4 separate regions of the Homo sapiens genome follow, and regions 2, 3 and 4 are each reported to be linked to region 1. The links are microRNA targets in miRTarBase. Many come from high-throughput screens and were not tested one by one. Region 1 holds a microRNA gene; each other region holds the end of a gene's coding sequence.
What was found. The annotated mature microRNA hsa-miR-3191-5p reads CUCUCUGGCCGUCUACCUUCCA and lies in region 1 at 1,749-1,770, shown strand. An mRNA with a match to its seed (bases 2 to 7 or 8) in the 3' UTR can be bound and repressed. Matches are read on the target gene's strand: a 7mer-m8 pairs with bases 2 to 8, a 7mer-A1 pairs with bases 2 to 7 and ends in A, and an 8mer does both.

Region 2: miRTarBase lists TRAF7 as a target of hsa-miR-3191-5p. Seed matches in the 3' UTR shown: 7mer-A1 at 2,169-2,175.
Region 3: the mRNA of NCK1 is a reported target of hsa-miR-3191-5p. The part of its 3' UTR that is shown has no 7-base or 8-base seed match.
Region 4: the mRNA of LTF is a reported target of hsa-miR-3191-5p. The part of its 3' UTR that is shown has no 7-base or 8-base seed match.

What each region holds. Positions count from the first base shown.
Region 1 is chr19:47,224,760-47,228,759 of GRCh38, reverse strand. MIR3191 (microRNA 3191) reads left to right here and starts at 1,741; the gene lies at 1,741-1,816. BBC3 (BCL2 binding component 3) reads left to right here. Exons shown (of 4, transcript NM_014417.5): 2 at 314-602; 3 at 2,006-2,196. The coding sequence starts at 329. It overlaps MIR3190 (microRNA 3190), which reads right to left and starts at 1,818; the gene lies at 1,739-1,818. RefSeq lists silencers at 264-703, 1,924-2,223, 2,593-2,759, 2,254-2,813 and enhancers at 736-1,678, 2,887-3,386.
Region 2 is chr16:2,175,781-2,179,993 of GRCh38, reverse strand. TRAF7 (TNF receptor associated factor 7) reads right to left here. Exons shown (of 21, transcript NM_032271.3): 18 at 4,041-4,160; 19 at 3,814-3,945; 20 at 3,610-3,729; 21 at 1,865-3,434. The coding sequence ends at 3,420. It overlaps CASKIN1 (CASK interacting protein 1), which reads left to right. Exons shown (of 20, transcript NM_020764.4): 18 at 1-401; 19 at 669-1,092; 20 at 1,348-2,814. The coding sequence ends at 1,444. Among named protein-coding and RNA genes, the nearest start is that of CASKIN1, 19 kb to the left of the region's middle. RefSeq lists an enhancer at 1,665-2,166.
Region 3 is chr3:136,947,873-136,952,074 of GRCh38, reverse strand. NCK1 (NCK adaptor protein 1) reads right to left here. Exons shown (of 4, transcript NM_001291999.2): 4 at 469-3,816. The coding sequence ends at 3,622. All of the region lies in intron 3 of IL20RB-AS1 (IL20RB antisense RNA 1), which reads left to right. Among named protein-coding and RNA genes, the nearest start is that of IL20RB, 8.0 kb to the left of the region's middle.
Region 4 is chr3:46,432,773-46,436,985 of GRCh38, forward strand. LTF (lactotransferrin) reads right to left here. Exons shown (of 17, transcript NM_002343.6): 17 at 2,873-3,457. The coding sequence ends at 3,423. Among named protein-coding and RNA genes, the nearest start is that of LINC02009, 11 kb to the left of the region's middle. RefSeq lists a silencer at 466-760.

The sequences.
Region 1 (4,000 bases):
TCACAGCCCTCATACACACACCTGCTAGACCCCTCCATCCGTCCTGTGTGAGCCCTGTCCTTGCTGTGAGAGCCGTCCTGTGCCCCCTGTCCCTCCTGTGTGCCCATCACCGTATGCACGGGAGGCTCTCCAGGCCAGCCAGGACCCGGTGGTGTCATCCCCCGGCTGGGCGTGTCTCTGTGGGGCCGTCACCCCCTCCGCATGCACACACACCTCCACTCTTCTCCATCTGGGTCCTAACCCCGGGTAGGCTGGAGGTACAGTGGGCCCTGGTACTTCCCTGCTGACCTGCTCCTCCTCCCGTGTCCCGCAGGCCCCAGGGAGCGCCATGGCCCGCGCACGCCAGGAGGGCAGCTCCCCGGAGCCCGTAGAGGGCCTGGCCCGCGACGGCCCGCGCCCCTTCCCGCTCGGCCGCCTGGTGCCCTCGGCAGTGTCCTGCGGCCTCTGCGAGCCCGGCCTGGCTGCCGCCCCCGCCGCCCCCACCCTGCTGCCCGCTGCCTACCTCTGCGCCCCCACCGCCCCACCCGCCGTCACCGCCGCCCTGGGGGGTTCCCGCTGGCCTGGGGGTCCCCGCAGCCGGCCCCGAGGCCCGCGCCCGGACGGTGAGTGCCCGCCCCGCCCCCGGGGTGATAGGAGCCGGGAAGAGAGAGGGCTGGAGACTCGGAGGAACTGGAGAAGTGGGAGAGGACGGGGGGAGGTGGCGGGCCCAGCCGGGCCACTGGGAGGGTGTGGCCAATGTGGTCTTTGTGTTGCAAGAAGCAGGAAGACGGAGGCTGGGGGTGGAGGGGGAGGTCAAGTGGGAAGTCCCTCCTGGAATCTGACTGCAGTCCCCGAATTGCAGCCCACTGTCTCTTCCGGGCCTGGGGCAACAGCTGCATCCCAGCTCCCCTCCCCCAGTCTGGGTCCTCTAGACCCCCTGGAGGATTCCTGTTGCAGGGAGAGTGGGCCGAGCGGGAGGACTGTCAACTCTGGCCTCTGGGGAGGGGTCGAGAGGCCTTTTGCTTTTATTTGCATCTCTTTGGCCAGGGGCTGTCCTCAGCAGTCCCGGCGGAGGAAGGAGAGGGGGAGGGGCCATTGTGTTGGGAAGTCCCCTCGGGGAGGTGGGGGAGTCTTGGGGAGGGAAGGGTTAAAGGTCCCCTGCCTGATGGGCTGTTAACCCTGTGGTGCCCGTGGAGCCCCATCCCTGCCGGCAGGCGCTCTAGGGAAAGTGTGTCCTGGTTTCCCATCCCCCATCTTGTCCCGGCAGCCCAAGGGGAGCGAGGAAAGAGAAAACTTCCCTAACTCAGTTCCTGGAAGCCCTGGAAGGGGACACCGATTTCAAGGCCAAGGTCACAGATGTGGAAACTGAGGCCCTGGCTGTAGGCCTTAGGGAACCCTCAGGCCAGGACCTGGTGGGACGGGAGGGCAGGAGCCTCCTAGGGCGCTCAGAAGTGGGGGGGGGGGGGGGGCAGGAAGGCATCTCCCGCGTCCCAGCCCCCCAGGCCCGCGCTCTGAAGCTGCCACAGTCTCTGGCCTTCTGGTCTCTAGGCCTCTGCCACATCCGGAGGTGTGGCTTCCCTGTGGTTGGACACGAGAGGGCAGGAGACCTGAGGCTTGTGATCTGGGTGGGGTCAGTCACTGTATCCCTGTGTGACCTTGGGATACTCCCTAAGGGCGGGCCTCAGTTTCCCTGCCTGTCACATGGAAAAGGCAAAATGTGGCCCCTTTGGAAAATAGAGGTCGTTAAGCCTGACCACCCCCGGGGTCACCTCTCTGGCCGTCTACCTTCCACACTGACAAGGGCCGTGGGGACGTAGCTGGCCAGACAGGTGACCCCAGAGCGGCGTCCCCAGGTACTTCTTGCTTTCTGGTGCCTGTGGAGGAGAAGCTGAGAAATTGACTCACTAGCGATGGGATCACTAGAAATGAGGCGGGGAGCAGTGGCTGGGAAAGAGGGGAGCAGGCCGAGACACCTCGAGGCCTGGAGGGGTGGTGGGTGCTGACCGCGCCCCTCTGCCTCTCCAAGGTCCTCAGCCCTCGCTCTCGCTGGCGGAGCAGCACCTGGAGTCGCCCGTGCCCAGCGCCCCGGGGGCTCTGGCGGGCGGTCCCACCCAGGCGGCCCCGGGAGTCCGCGGGGAGGAGGAACAGTGGGCCCGGGAGATCGGGGCCCAGCTGCGGCGGATGGCGGACGACCTCAACGCACAGTACGAGCGGCGGGTGAGTGCTGGGGGTGGGGTAGACGGCAGGTGGGACTTCCGCCGGAGGAGGGGGCGGCAGGCGGCCCCCGCCAGATGTGCGGCAGCTGCTGCCCTGCGCGGCTGGGTCGCTCCGCGGACAGGCAGGTGGGGGGTAAGTGGGTGGGGGGGAATCGCGCGCCCGCAGAGCCGCCCAAGGACTCCGCGCCGCGGCTGGCATAGCCGGAGCCCGAGCCAGGGCCAGGGCCAGGGCCAGGGACTAGGCCGCCGAGGAGTGGAGCTGCGCGCCCGTGGCCCGCGGCCGCGGGGACTGAGGGCGGCGCTGGGCGGCGCGGCTCATATATCCCGGGCTATTTATAGCCGGTGAGTCAGCAGCCGCGCCGCGCCCGCCCCCTGCCGTCCCTCTCGCGCGGCCCGCAGCGCCACACAGTTTCCCGGGCGCCGGGGCGGGCCGGGGACCGCAGGGGTGGGCTCGCAGCCCCGCCCCGCGGGAGGCCCCGCCCCCCAGCCCCTGGCACGGCCTCGATTTTTTAAAACAAATATTCGAAGCCCACAGCAGAGAATGGGAAATCACAAACATCATGCGCCCACCAGGCAGCTCTGTTCAGTTTGAACATTACACCCGCATTGCTTGCTTATTAAGAAACCAAACAAAACCGCAGAAACGCATGTGGTGAAGCTCCTTACTCTCCCCATCCCTTCCCCCTCCTTGCATCCAAAGGAAATCTCTCGAGTTGGCCTCTCTCAACCCCTGCAGGTGTTGCTTTTACTCCGTATTTACCAGGCCAGAACCAGGGCTTAGAATCATGGAGCATTCTTAGCTTAGCGTATATGACATAGTTTTTGTTTCTCCCCAGAATTCCTTTTTCCCTCAATATTAGGCTTCAGATTCACCATATGGGCAAAAGAGCTTCCATTCATCTATGTTCAGCCAGGCACGGTGGCTCACTCCTGTAATCCCAGCACTTTGGGAGGCGGAGATAGAAGGACGCTTGAGCCCAGGAGTTCCAGACCAGCCTGGGCCACATAATGAGATCCCCGTTGCTACAAAAAATACAAAAATTAGCCGGGTGTGGTGGCGCGGGCCTGTAGTCTCAGCTACTTGGGAGGCTGAGGTGAAAGGGTCCCTTGAGCCAAGGAAGTCGAGGCTGCACTGAGCCATGAAGGGTCACTGAACTCCAGCCTGGGGGACAGAGCAAGACCATCTCAAAAAAGAAACAACAAATACAGCCATTTTCGGCCTGGTGCAGTGGCCCACGCCTGTAATCCCAGCCCTTTGGGAGGCGGAGGCAAGTGGCTCACTTGAGGTTGGGAGTTTGAGACCAGTCTGGCCAACATGGTGAAACCTCGTCTCTACTAAAAATACAAAAATTAAGGCCGGGCGTGGTGGCTCATGCCTGTAATCCCAGCACTTTGGGAGGCTGAGGAGGGCGGATCACCTGAGGTCGGGAGTTCGAGACAAGCCTGACCAACATGAACAAACCCCGTCTCTACTAAAAATACAAAATTAGCCAGGCGTGGTGGCACATGCCTGTAATCTCAGCTACTCGGGAGGCTGAGGCAGGATAATTGCTTGAAACCGGGAGGCAGAGGTTGCGGTGAGCCGAGATCGTGCCATTGCACTCCAGCCTGGGCAACAACAGCGAAAATCTGTCTCAAAAAAAAAAAAAGAAACAAAAAGTAGCTGAGCATGGTGGCACACGCCAGTAATCCCAGCTACTTGGGAGACTGAGGCAGGAGAATCTCTTGAACCCAGGAGGTGGAGGTTGCAGTGAGCCGAGATCAGGAGATCATGCCACTGCACTCCAGCCTGGAGGACAGAATGA
Region 2 (4,213 bases), not on the chromosome of region 1:
GAGGCGCATCCGGGCCAAGCAGAACCAGCAGGAGAACGTCAAGTTCATCCTGACCGAGTCTGACACGGTCAAGCGCAGGCCCAAGGCCAAGGAGCGGGAGGCCGGGCCTGAGCCACCACCGCCACTGTCCGTGTACCATAATGGCACTGGCACCGTGCGCCGCCGACCGGCCTCGGAGCAGGCTGGGCCTCCGGAGCTGCCTCCACCGCCCCCGCCTGCCGAACCCCCGCCCACCGACCTGGCGCACCTACCCCCATTGCCCCCGCCCGAGGGCGAAGCCCGGAAGCCGGCCAAGCCGCCTGTCTCTCCCAAGCCCGTCCTGACGCAGCCTGTGCCCAAGCTCCAGGGCTCGCCCACACCCACCTCCAAGAAGGTGCCGCTGCCAGGCCCTGGCAGCCCAGGTAGGCCAGCCAGGGTGGGGTGAAGGGGCAACAGGACCCTGCTCCACCTCCTTACTCGGTGGTCTGAGGGGTTTTCCTTTTCTTGGGTTTGATGGAAGCCCAGGTGGGGTGGGAACGTGTCCCCAGACCCTCTCATCCATCCAGGGCTGGGGGCAAGGTGAGCAGGGTCTTTCCCGGTCCGCTGGGGAGGAAGCCGCGGGAGGCTGGGGCAGGGGGCGCGGCGGCGGAACTCGTGCCCGCTCGGTGCCAGCGTGGTCCTCCCCGCAGAGGTGAAGCGCGCCCACGGCACGCCACCGCCCGTGTCTCCCAAGCCGCCGCCGCCGCCCACAGCGCCCAAGCCCGTCAAGGCGGTCGCGGGGCTGCCTTCGGGCAGCGCCGGCCCTTCACCCGCACCCTCGCCCGCGCGACAGCCGCCCGCCGCCCTCGCCAAGCCGCCCGGTACGCCGCCCTCGCTGGGCGCCAGCCCCGCCAAGCCCCCGTCCCCCGGCGCGCCCGCGCTGCACGTGCCCGCCAAGCCCCCGCGAGCCGCCGCCGCCGCCGCCGCCGCCGCCGCCGCGCCCCCCGCCCCGCCCGAAGGCGCCTCGCCAGGGGACAGCGCCCGGCAGAAACTGGAGGAGACAAGCGCGTGCCTGGCCGCGGCGCTGCAGGCGGTGGAGGAGAAGATCCGGCAGGAGGACGCGCAGGGCCCGCGGTAGGTGCGGGGCGGGGCCTGGCGGGCGGAGGGCGGGGCTCGGCAGAGATGGGCGGGGCTCGGCAGAGATGGGCGGGGCTCGGCAGAGATGGGCGGGGCTCGGCAGAGATGGGCGTGCCGTGAGCGGGGCTCCGCCGAGGTCGTCGTGCGGTAGGCGGAAGCCGACGGAGATGCGGGACGTGGGCGTGTCCTGGTCGGGGTGGGCGTGGCCAGACCCGCCCCGCCCACTCACGCCCCTTGCCCCGCGCCCCGCAGCGACTCGGCGGCGGAAAAGAGCACTGGCAGCATCCTGGACGACATCGGCAGCATGTTCGACGACCTGGCCGACCAGCTGGATGCCATGCTGGAGTGAACGCCGCCTGGCCGGGCCCTCCCGCGCCGCCCGGGCCCTCCCCGCACACTGACCTATACCTCAGGATGGGCGCGTCTGGGCGCGGCGCGAGCGGCCGGGCAGGGCCCTGCAGAAGCACAACTCCGGCCCCTGGACCCGGGCCGGGGCGCCCACCGGGGACCGCCTGGCCGGGGGCTCCAAGGGCTCTAGGCAGACCCTGCGCCCGCGGGTCCTCCCCACCTGCTGCTCCCCGTGCAATACCTGCTGGGCCTCCTGCCCGCGCGGGAGGGGAGGGCGCCCCGGGACCAGGGATGGGGCAGCGCACAGGCCCGGGCCCAGCACAGAACTGCCCATCGGGACGCCCGGCCAGCCGCTCGGGCGCAGCACAAGGGACAGGGGACCAAGGTCAGGGCCCCCCTGCCCCACCGCACCCCCAGAATATAAGCTATCAAGAGTATTAATTTATTGGGAATGAGCTGAGGCGGATTTCCCCAGAGAAACAAAAAGGTATAACTTTAACAAATATATATTTAAAGAAAGAAATATTATTGATTCTATAGAAAACCATTTACCAACTGAAAGGACACGAAGTCTAGCTCCGGACAAAAGCTGTTAGAGGCCCAGGCTGTCTGCCTGCGGTCCTTCCTCCGGCCAGAGTGGAGGCCCCAGGCTGCTAGCACAGGTGGAAGGCTGGGGCCCGGGGGCGGGTGCTCTGCCGGGGGCTCCTCCGTGCTTCTCTCCTAAGTTCTCTGCGCCCCAAGAACTCGAGGTTGTGCCTTGCTCTCGGCGGCCGTGTCCTCCTCCTGGCGTGGCTGCGTCCCAGGGCGCGGGTGGGTTTGGTGAATGTGGGTGTGTCAGCGTGGCAGCCACGTGGAAGCAGGGCATGTAGCAGGCCAGGCCACGGGCTTGCAGCTCCTCTGAGGGTGTGCCTGGCCCCCTCTCCAGGGGCTGTGCAGGCAGCCCATCCACCCCAGTGGAGTTCCCACGGACGCTTCTGCTCATGGTCCAAGGCTGTGTTGTGTGGTCATTCTCGCCCTCCCTTTTCCTCTCTCCTCCTGCCCCCTCCAAGAAGTACTGACTGGTCTCCTCTATCGTGTTTGCTGATCCACAGTGTTGGGCACAACTTTGACGTTTCTTAAAAAAAAAATTTAAAAAATGCCGAAAACCAGCGATTGTGGTGTGGGGCGGGTGGAGGCGGCTGGCGGAGGTGGCGTCCCGGCGTGCAGGGCCCCTTCCTGCTGTCTCACCCCGTGTTTCCCTGCGAGTGGACGTGCCCAGCTGTCCCCCCAGGCCTCTCCTCAGAGGGCGGCACAGGCTGGGCTCCAGCAGGTGGGCAGGGGAGGTCTGGGCAAGGCGCTGCCGTCGGCTGTCAATAAACAGCAGGAAACAGAGGTGCCTGGCTCACTTTTTGGGGGCACATGTGTTGGGGGAGATGGGACTGGAGGCCAGCAGCTTGGGTGTGACGAGTTGCCTCCTAGCAGGGAGGGGAGGCCCCGGAGTGGGCCGAAGTCCTGGGGTCCACCAAAGGAAACTGCCCCATGCCCCCCCACTCACAGCAGCCAGTGCCTGTGCACACCAACCTCAAGGCCACACACAGCCCCCTTGTCCCGAGGAGCTGTCCCCACTCACAGCCACAGTCTGTGGAGCATTTATTTCAACCAGGAGGTAACCAAATCTACATACAGTCTAAAAACGGTAGAAAAGGTGAGTAAAAAGGCCCTCGCTCCATCTAGGGTGGGGATGGAGGGTGGGGATGGAGGGTGGGCCGGGGCAAGCGTCGTACCTGGCACCCAGAGAGGGGCTGGGCAGCAAGGACAGTGCCGAGTAGAGGGAGGCTCGCCGAGCATGGGACGGGGAGGGCACTGCCCGGCTGCCAGAGCCTGTCCACCTATGCCCACGGGGCAGGCAGAAACCCCGAGACCACCCCATGTGGCCAGCCTGGCTCAGAAAGGTCCAGGGCTGGTTCAGGGGAAACCACAGCCTGGCCTGGATCCTGTTAGCAAGTCCAAACCTGCAGAGAAAGGGCTGCTTCACCAGGATGTCCTGCGGCCGGCTGCCCTGCCCCAGCCACACCTGCCACACGTACCTGCCCTCCACCACTTTGTGCTGGGGCTGCCAGCTCCTCGTCCCCACCCCCGCTCCATCCTGTGCAGCCCCTTTGAATGGCCTGAGCCACGGGCACTGACCTTCACAGTGCTATCCACAGCCCCTGAGAAGAGTCGGCCCCGGGACACAGCCAGCGCGGTGACACTGCCCTGGTGACGCAGCAGGGTCTGCGTGCAGATCATGTTGTCCATACTCCAGACCTGGGGGCACATGGGACGTGAGGGCCCGCCGGAGCTCAGCTGCCAGCCCTCTGAGCCTCCTGCCACCGCTGGGCCAGCACGCACCCTGAGGGACCGGTCGTAGGATGCACTGAAGACTTTGGTCTGGTCTGGCGTCGAGATGACCGCCAGGGCATACACGGTGCCCACGTGGCCCGTGAGGGTCCGCACCTGCTCCTTGGACTCAATGTCCCACACCTGGGAGGGGTGGGCACAGGCAGGTCAAAGACACTGAGCAAGGCGGGGGAGACGGGGCCACAGTCTGGCCTTGCACCCAGATGCCCAGGCCTTACGTGGATGAGGTTCTCGTAGGTGCCACAGACAATGTGGTGATTTGTCACAGCAATGGAGTAGACGCTGCCACCAGACGTCTGCAGGACGTGGATGCAGTCAAGGGTTCGGATGTCCCAGATCTATGAGTAATCGTGGGCCAGTTGGTCCCAGGCCAGGTGCTTCACCCCCAGGG
Region 3 (4,202 bases), not on the chromosome of region 1:
GCATCTGGAGATCTCAACTAGGGGGATAAGGGTTGGGAGTGTGAAAGTTAATTATACAAATTGGGTAATTATTGTCATACCCAACCAAATCAGATTCAATGCATTAAGGGGAAAAAGTACATGAAGGACATAGCAGCTGCTCCAAGAACTCAGTTTTCCACAAGCCCAGCTACTTAAACAGACTACTGTAAACCCTAAGACCAGTTTTACCTAGTAGCTGCTGAAATGACCTGCTGTGACTCTAAGACTGGTTTTACCTATCACTGTCACACACCAATCAGAGCTTGCCACCTCCCAAAAACTTATCTAGAACCAATGAGTTTTCTTTCAAAACATACGTAACATTTCTCTTTATAATAAAACTCCCCATCTTCTCTGTTCTTTAGACATACCAAAAACTACTGTCTGTGTATATGCCCTGAATTACAATTCTTGCTTCCCAAATAAAACGTTTCAGAGATTCGTCTCTATATTTTGACTTGAAAGAAGACTTTATTATACTGTTTGAATTTTTTCACCATGTGCACTGGTAAAGATAAGAGGACCATCCATATTAGATTCCAGCTCATTGTTGACTTGTGGGAATTCAACTCATGTTATTAGCTTCTCATTTTTAAAGGGAAACAAGAAGTCTGAATTTTATGTGAAACTCCCTGATTTTTAAATGTTGGCAATTAATTTTTTAAAGCACTGTGTGGGTTGAACAACATTTCTGTATAAGGCCACTGTGTTTAGATGTACCCTGAAGAAGGTACCCCAGCAACAAGGTGGGAGTGAAATTCAAACTTCTAGAGAAGGGCTGGGCCTGCCTAGAGAATTCTCACAAACGTGCTACAGAGACTGTGACAACTCTGCTTCTATGCAACCTCTGGATTATATGGTAGGACATTACAGCTGGAGATAATTTAAGTGCCATATTCTGCAAGAATGACCTTATTCTAACAACCCAAGTTGCCCATCTGCTAGGCCTATTTATTCTTCTAGCAATGGCAATAGATTGCATGAAGCCTATTTTGTTTAGCAGTATTATTTGTCACTAATAGTGCAAGGTGCATGTGTTAACTGTATAGTGATATATGTGTAATATACATGTGTGAATATATATTCAGCTGAATCCTAAGGTTTTATGACTAAATAAGGGACACAATGGCATTTGTTTTTGTCACAAAGCTTATATCATGTTCTAAAAAACCTTCTAAGATTTTGGGGAAGTTATTTGTAGAAGTGAGTTAGGCAGGGTTCCATCTGACACATGTATTTAAATTTGAAACTAAGCATTCTCCTCATGTGGAAGAAAACTTCTGTAATATTGCCCTTCCCAGGACTCTCCTCCTAGTCTAAAACCAAGCATACACAGAGTAGTGTGTCACGATACAGACACCAGGCTGGGAATAAGGAAACTTGGTTTCTTATACAAGTATTGTTACTATCTAGCTATGTAGAGTTTTCCAGGGTTGTTTCAGTTCTTAAAGTTACTTCAAGTATTATAAAAACAGTCACTGGTATAAGCATTGGATTAAGACTTTTTAAAAATTGGTAAAATATTTAAGTACAAAATAAGTAGCTTCCAGCGAGGTTTTTATACCATAGTAAGAGCACACAATAGATATTACTAGCACACATGGGTTATCTGGGAGCGCTATAGCTACAATAAACCTAATTATGGAACAGAAATTTGCATTCTGTTTCCAGTGCTACTACACTCCTACTTTCTCAAAAGTCTGCTCTATTAATATCAGCTCAGTGCAGTTTACTATGAATAGTTTATGTCTGTGATGCAAAGCATTAATTGTTCTCTTTTTACAAACATACATTTTTTTCATAAGGAAGACTGGGGGAAAACCCAGAAACATACAGAGAAAAGGAAAGCATCATCAAATATATGTTAAAAATTAAGATGATGTTTACTACTAGTCATCCTACAACAATTTAAAGTTTTCCTCAATTTATATTCATTTGATTTTACAGCAAAGATAAGCATACATGATTTTTATTTCCATTAAAAACTTAACTACTAATAATTACCCTCAACAAAGGAGTACTGAGTTAGAAAAATAATAGAATATGAACTAAAATGTTTTAAAAGCAGATGTAATAGAGATGAAAATTTGTCTTAATTATATTTGGTCACTTCTGTTGCTTAGTGGGAGAAGCCATGGCTGCCACCCAGTGGCAACATAAGTCTTTAAATGATTTTAAGATTTAAATAATATTTAAAACATTGATAAAAAAAATTCACAAGTTACACAACTTCAATTTTACCATCAGTAATTCTGGCGTATTAGATATCTATTTATAACAGCAAAGAATTAAAACATCCATATGCTTAGGCAGCATTAGGGAATTTGTTGAAAGTATCATACGACATCCTACTCAGTTATGTGGCTTTAGTATTTTTCAATTAAAATACTGATGGCTACTTTACTTAAATTTAAATCTCCAGAATAATAGGGGGACAAATTATGACCATAAAATACAACTGGTTTTCTTCTATAGCCTACAGAAGCAGATTGGCCTCTTATCCATACACCCAAATTCCTACTTGGTTAAAAAACAAATTAAAAAATTAAAAATAATATAATTTTCCCTAACCATGAGCACATTCTATTTTTTCCTCAGGTATACATCAGTTTTAGTGTCCCAATCAACAAAACTTAAAGCTGAAAAGAGGAAATGAAAATAGGTAATACCATTCCTGACAATTACTGATATTTAGTGAGGAGAAAAAAACAAGTATCTCACTGCTTCCTGTTTTTGCAAAACTTGGCCATAACTTATTTCCCACTGGCATAAATATAACATGTCCTAATACAAGATGCTCTAGAGGTAAAATAATACAAGTGGGATTAAAAAAATAAATAACACTAGAGCATCTATTTACAGTTTGAAAAGCTAAATATCTCAGAGACTGTTTTGTTTTCTTGAATAACCAGATGAGGGAGAAGCACTGGAAAAAAATTAAGTGATTTTTATTTCCAACAGTTGTAAATTAAAATTGTACAACATGTTTTCTAATCTATGTCTCATGTGTCTTGCTGTATGACTGAAGACAATGAATGTATTTTTAAAAATTATGGCAGACACAATATACTTGGTATTTACAATGGCCTGTGACAAATATAATACCTGGAAATAATTTCTAATTTTCCACTTATTATTGCTATTTAGTCACAGAAAAGATTAACACTCTCCAAGAAATTTTAGCATATGTCATATATAGATATAATAATTTTATATAATGAAAAACCATAACAGAACAGGGTGCCTTTACAAGGAAACAAAGGAAAGGCAATAAAGGATTTCTTCCATATAAAGATTCTGATATGCATTATTTGATTTTTGTTTACAAAATACAAAACTGTAATATTAGAAGCAAAGGGAAAACAGCAAAGAAAAAAACAATAAAACAGAAGGCCAAGGATAAGGAACTGTTCTATGCAGATGCACTGCATACATAGTATATATGTATGGGCTGAGTTATAATAAAAATACTTATTGTCAATTCTCATATAGATTTAGAAACAACAATTTCCAATCAAGCACGACTGGACCCAACATTTTCTCAGTCTTCAATTACATGACAAATTACAGCTACACAGCAGTCACTTCTGGTCAGCAGTATCATGATAAATGCTTGACAAGATATAATTTTTCTCCTTGTTCACTTGTAAAAATTGGTGCCTTTTTGTAATGTTCTACAAGTTCTTCCATGGTGCTGAATTTACGCTGCCCAATGCAGTAGACAGTCTCTTTTAGTTGGACTTTAAAATGCTTGTTTTTCCCTTGTGCTTTTAGTGATACTGAGAAATCATTTGGCTAAAAGAGAAAAAAAAGATACATATAGTAAACATTTTGAAAGCCCTCTATCAGTATTTTTATATTAAACTAAAAGCTAAAATCTAAGCACTTACTAAGTCCTAGGCACCATGGTAAATTATTTACATAGATTATCTCCTTTACTCTTCAAAACAAACCCTTTTTACACATGTGAAAACTGAGTCTCAAAGAAGCTATTAATAACTTGGCCAATATCATCCATCTAGTTAACAACAGAGCCAGGATTCAAACCTGCATAATCAAAAGTCTCTTAACACCCACGGCTCCAACAGCAGACACCCACAGCAAATCCTTTAGTTAAATATTTGAAGAACAAGAGCTATCTTCTCTCCAGTCAGAGAAACACATGAGAAAGTCTAAGATAC
Region 4 (4,213 bases), not on the chromosome of region 1:
CATATTTGTGTAACCAACTTAGAATATAACCAAAGTGAGTATCTGTGGGACGTTGTGAAAGCCCATTTGCAGGGAGCTTTCACATCTAACATCACCTTTGATATTGGTGAATTACAAAACAAAATTCTTGATTTACATAGGCAAATTCAAGAGTTTCAGCCTTCTTTAGAAGACTGGACCAAATTCCAGCAAGGCCTGGAGAGCCTCAATCCTTGGACTTATCTAAGGCACTACATTAACATCTTACATGTAGTTCTTGGAATAATATTGTTTTGTCTCTGTCTTCTGTTCATAGCCTGTAAAATTGGATGGACCACCAATCGGAAAATGAGAGCTGCCCACCCTGGCCTTACATTCTTTCAATTAATTCATAAACAGAAAGGGGGATATTTAGGGAGCCTAAGGCTCGTGGGACTGACCAACTCATCATTCCACTGGAGGCTATATGATAAAACAGCAAACTGTTTATCATGAATGCAGGATGTGGGCAAACTCACGACTGCTCCCACTGCCAGAAGGTTTGCTGAGGGCAATCACTTCCTGGCACCAGGCTCCTTGAGGTTATCTACTGGGACATCTGGAGAATGCAGTCTTGCAAGCCTACTGTGGACTGAGCAGCTGATCCCTTCTTCCACACCCCCCTTCTCACTATCTCTTTTGTCTAATCACTACGGAGGGTTGTGTAAAGCTCAGGGCCCTTGTCCACTAGAGGCAAAGTGCCCCCTGACCGCTTCTTCCAAATATACTCTTTTGTCTCTTGTCTTTTATTCCCACGTTTGCCCCCTTTGTTCAGTTTCCCTAGGTCCATGTGGGTTACATAGTGGCAACCTGAACAATGACAGAATCAGGTGCTCTACAGAAATAACTTTTTAAGGAAAGATTTGGGACTTAGAGACCCCAGGAGACATACACAAAAATGATAAGAGGATGTGCCCAAACCAGTCTTAAAGTTGTGGCACAGGGTGAGGAAGATGAAGCTGTTACTGAACCTCAGAGAGTGACTGGTGTTACAGCAAAAGTTAGCAATGGCCTGAAGGGAGGGTTTCTGAAATCAAATATGAATGATTCCCCCTCAGGGAACCCAACCTTGGGAACTACTGCATGGTTCTCTGTATGGGAAAATATCATTAATGCAGGATAAATTGTGAAATATCACAGGAAGCATCCTGCATCTAGTCAATCTTCTGTTTCTGGGGTGGCCTGTGCAGCTGTGCAGGCAGAGGCCCAACCATCCTGGTGAGTGGCACACAGGGACTGAGATCCAGCCACACCTACCAGGCCATGCTCTGGGAAGGGGGTGGGACCTGGGCAAAGGACACCTCTCTAGGACTGCAGAGAAGCCTTTGTGGGTGGGTGGGACATTCCTGTGATGGCCTTCTGGCTGGGCACTATGAAATGCTCTGAAGATTTTTCCTTGCACTGTTGCACTAACCCCAGTCCTCTATCACTGCCCCTTCCTCCTGGGCGACTTCACTGATGTTGTGGCCATGTGAATTCTCTGGCCAATGAAATGATAAAGATGATATGGCCTCTGCCAAGCAGACACTGTAAGTATTATTGTATGATGCTTTTGTCTCTTTTTTTTAAGTTAAAGCAGTTTATTAAGAAAATAAAGGAATAAAAGAATAGCACTCCATAGGCAGAGCAGCTGCCTCTGTCTCTTATATTTTCCCCTCTGCCTCAAGCCCAACATGCCCAAAATTGGGGCTGCTGGTTCAGCCTGGGTCTCAGAATAAAGACATGAGCCACAGATCCATTGCTGACCCATGATGGAGATGGACACAAGAGAGAAACACATTTTTGTCATGTTAGCCACTAAGATTTTGATTTGGAGGCCATTTGCTACAGCAATATAACCTAGCGTGAACAGAGAGACACAGCGATGTTCCATTTCTTTTCAACCTGGAACAGGAGAATTTCATAGGTGGGCCTCAATTTCACTTTAGTATCTTATTTAGACAAGAAAGTTCATACTGTTCAAATGTCATGTTTAAGAGTGCTGGCATTATCACTGCTGTGGCTACCCCATCAGATGTTGCTCACTGACTAATCTTCTCATGTTAGTGAGGATGGACAACATATCAGGCCATAATTCAAAGTAGCAAATAGGAAAAGAGCTTCATCCTAGCATTATGGGACCTTAATTAATGTCCTTTCCTGACAGGTTTCAGAGGCTTTTGCAGGCAGCAGCAGAGCTATTCATCTCACTGACAGTGGGGAACATGGCCAAATGGTTGCCCCCACAATGGAGGCAGAGTTTCAGGACACTTGTCTGATCTCTGCCCTTGAAGGAACAGTCTCACCCTGATTGACACTTTTGCCTGTTATGTCCAAAGAACCAATGGAAAAGCAGGAAAATTATTCCTTCTTCATTTCTCTCTTCATTATTTAAAATTATTCTGTCTTCACTTCTCTCTCCTTTTCTCTGCTTCCTACTTAGCTCTTTAGAAATGCAATTATAATCTTTTATCTCCCCTTCACCAGACACTCCCAACAGGGCAAGTTCATCTAACTATGTGCTCTTAGTTAGACGCTACAGAGCAGAACTCTCTCCCACCAAGAGACTACCTTGAGACATAACAGTCAATTCACAAGCCAAAATATGCCCGCTATGAAACTCTCCCATCTGGAAATTTTTTGGCTGCTTTTACAACCTAGTTTTGCCCACAAAGGCACCAGCAGTAACCAACTCAACTGCCTGGTAGACAAGGCACCAAAGCCAGTACCCAGACCCTCTACCTGCTCACTTCCTGCCTTGCATGCCACGCCCCCCATTTAAAAGCCTCTGCTTTCTGCTCCAAAGGTGAAGCAGTTACCCTTAAGGAAAGAAGCCTGTACTTCTTCCCCTAAGGTAGCTTTGGAATAAAAGTCACTTTATACCAAACCTAGCTCTTGTTAATTAGACTCTGCAAGTGATGAGCAACTGAACCTACATTTCAGTTATAATTCCTATGCTTGCTCTTCCTGCCCTGCCTTGGGGACACGCACACACTCCCAGGCACATACATGCACGTGCACTGAGACAGCTATGTGAATAACCAACAAGATCCCCTTAGGAAAACCGGTGCTTGGCCTGGCCTTAAATTCCAGACCCTTGGGCATCATACCCAAGACTGCAAGAAAGAGGAGGGGCTGGACCTGAAAAACTTGGAAGGGAAGGTCCAACTGTACAGGTATTTTGTCAGGCATGTGATTTCAGTATAAAATTCTAGAAAAGATGAGTGACACTTTATAAGGAGAGAATATCAACAAAATTTCTCATTTTACTTCTTGCTAAGACGACAGCAGGGAATTGTAAGCAGATGGATGGGCAATCCCCACCTTCAGCAGGGGAGGCCAAGGCCCCAACACACCTGGGGAGAAGAGCTGGGGGCAGTGAATGGCTGAGGCTTTCTTGGGGAGCTGGGCCATCTTCTTCGGTTTTACTTCCTGAGGAATTCACAGGCTTCCAGGAGGGCTGTGGGACACAACAGAGCAAGAGATTCAGAAACTGATTTCTTCCATTAAACCAGTTATTTAATCCAATAAATCAAAGAGAATACTAAGAGTTTTCTCTGCCCTTCTCCCATCACTGAGTCAGTGCTTGCCACACTCATATTCCCACTCCCCTACTCCTAGCGACTACGGTGTTCAAGGGAGCCAGAGTCTAGCCCTCACCAGCCAGGGTGTTTCCCTGCTCTGGCCTGAGAGACACAACCACCCTGCACTTGTCTCTGATTGAATCGACTGTCACATTCTCAAGTTCACAAGACATTGGTGGTCCTCTAGCTTCTCCCGGAATGTGAACCTGTTTGCAATCATGTTCACCTGCAGATTCACTCATTCATTCACAGATCCTTACTGAGCACCTGCTTTGTGTGAGTTGCTGTGCTAAGTGCTGGGGACACAGCATGGATAGACTGGCCTGCCCTCAAGAAGCATGTGGTCTATGCAGTCCTGAGCTGGCTGCTCACAAGAAGAGCCCTGTAGCCATATTTCTCAGAGGGTGGTCCTGACCTGCATCACAGTGACCTGAGTTGTTTGTCAATACAGAAAAGGGTTTCTCAACCTTGGCACTATTGACATTTGGGGCCTGATAATAACCCTTTATTGCAGGGGGCTGGCTGTGCTTTGTTTAGTAGCATCCCTGGCCTCTACCTATTTGTTACCAGCAGCACCCTCTATGTTGTAAGAATCAAAAAAATGCTTCTCACATTGTCAAATATCCCCTCAG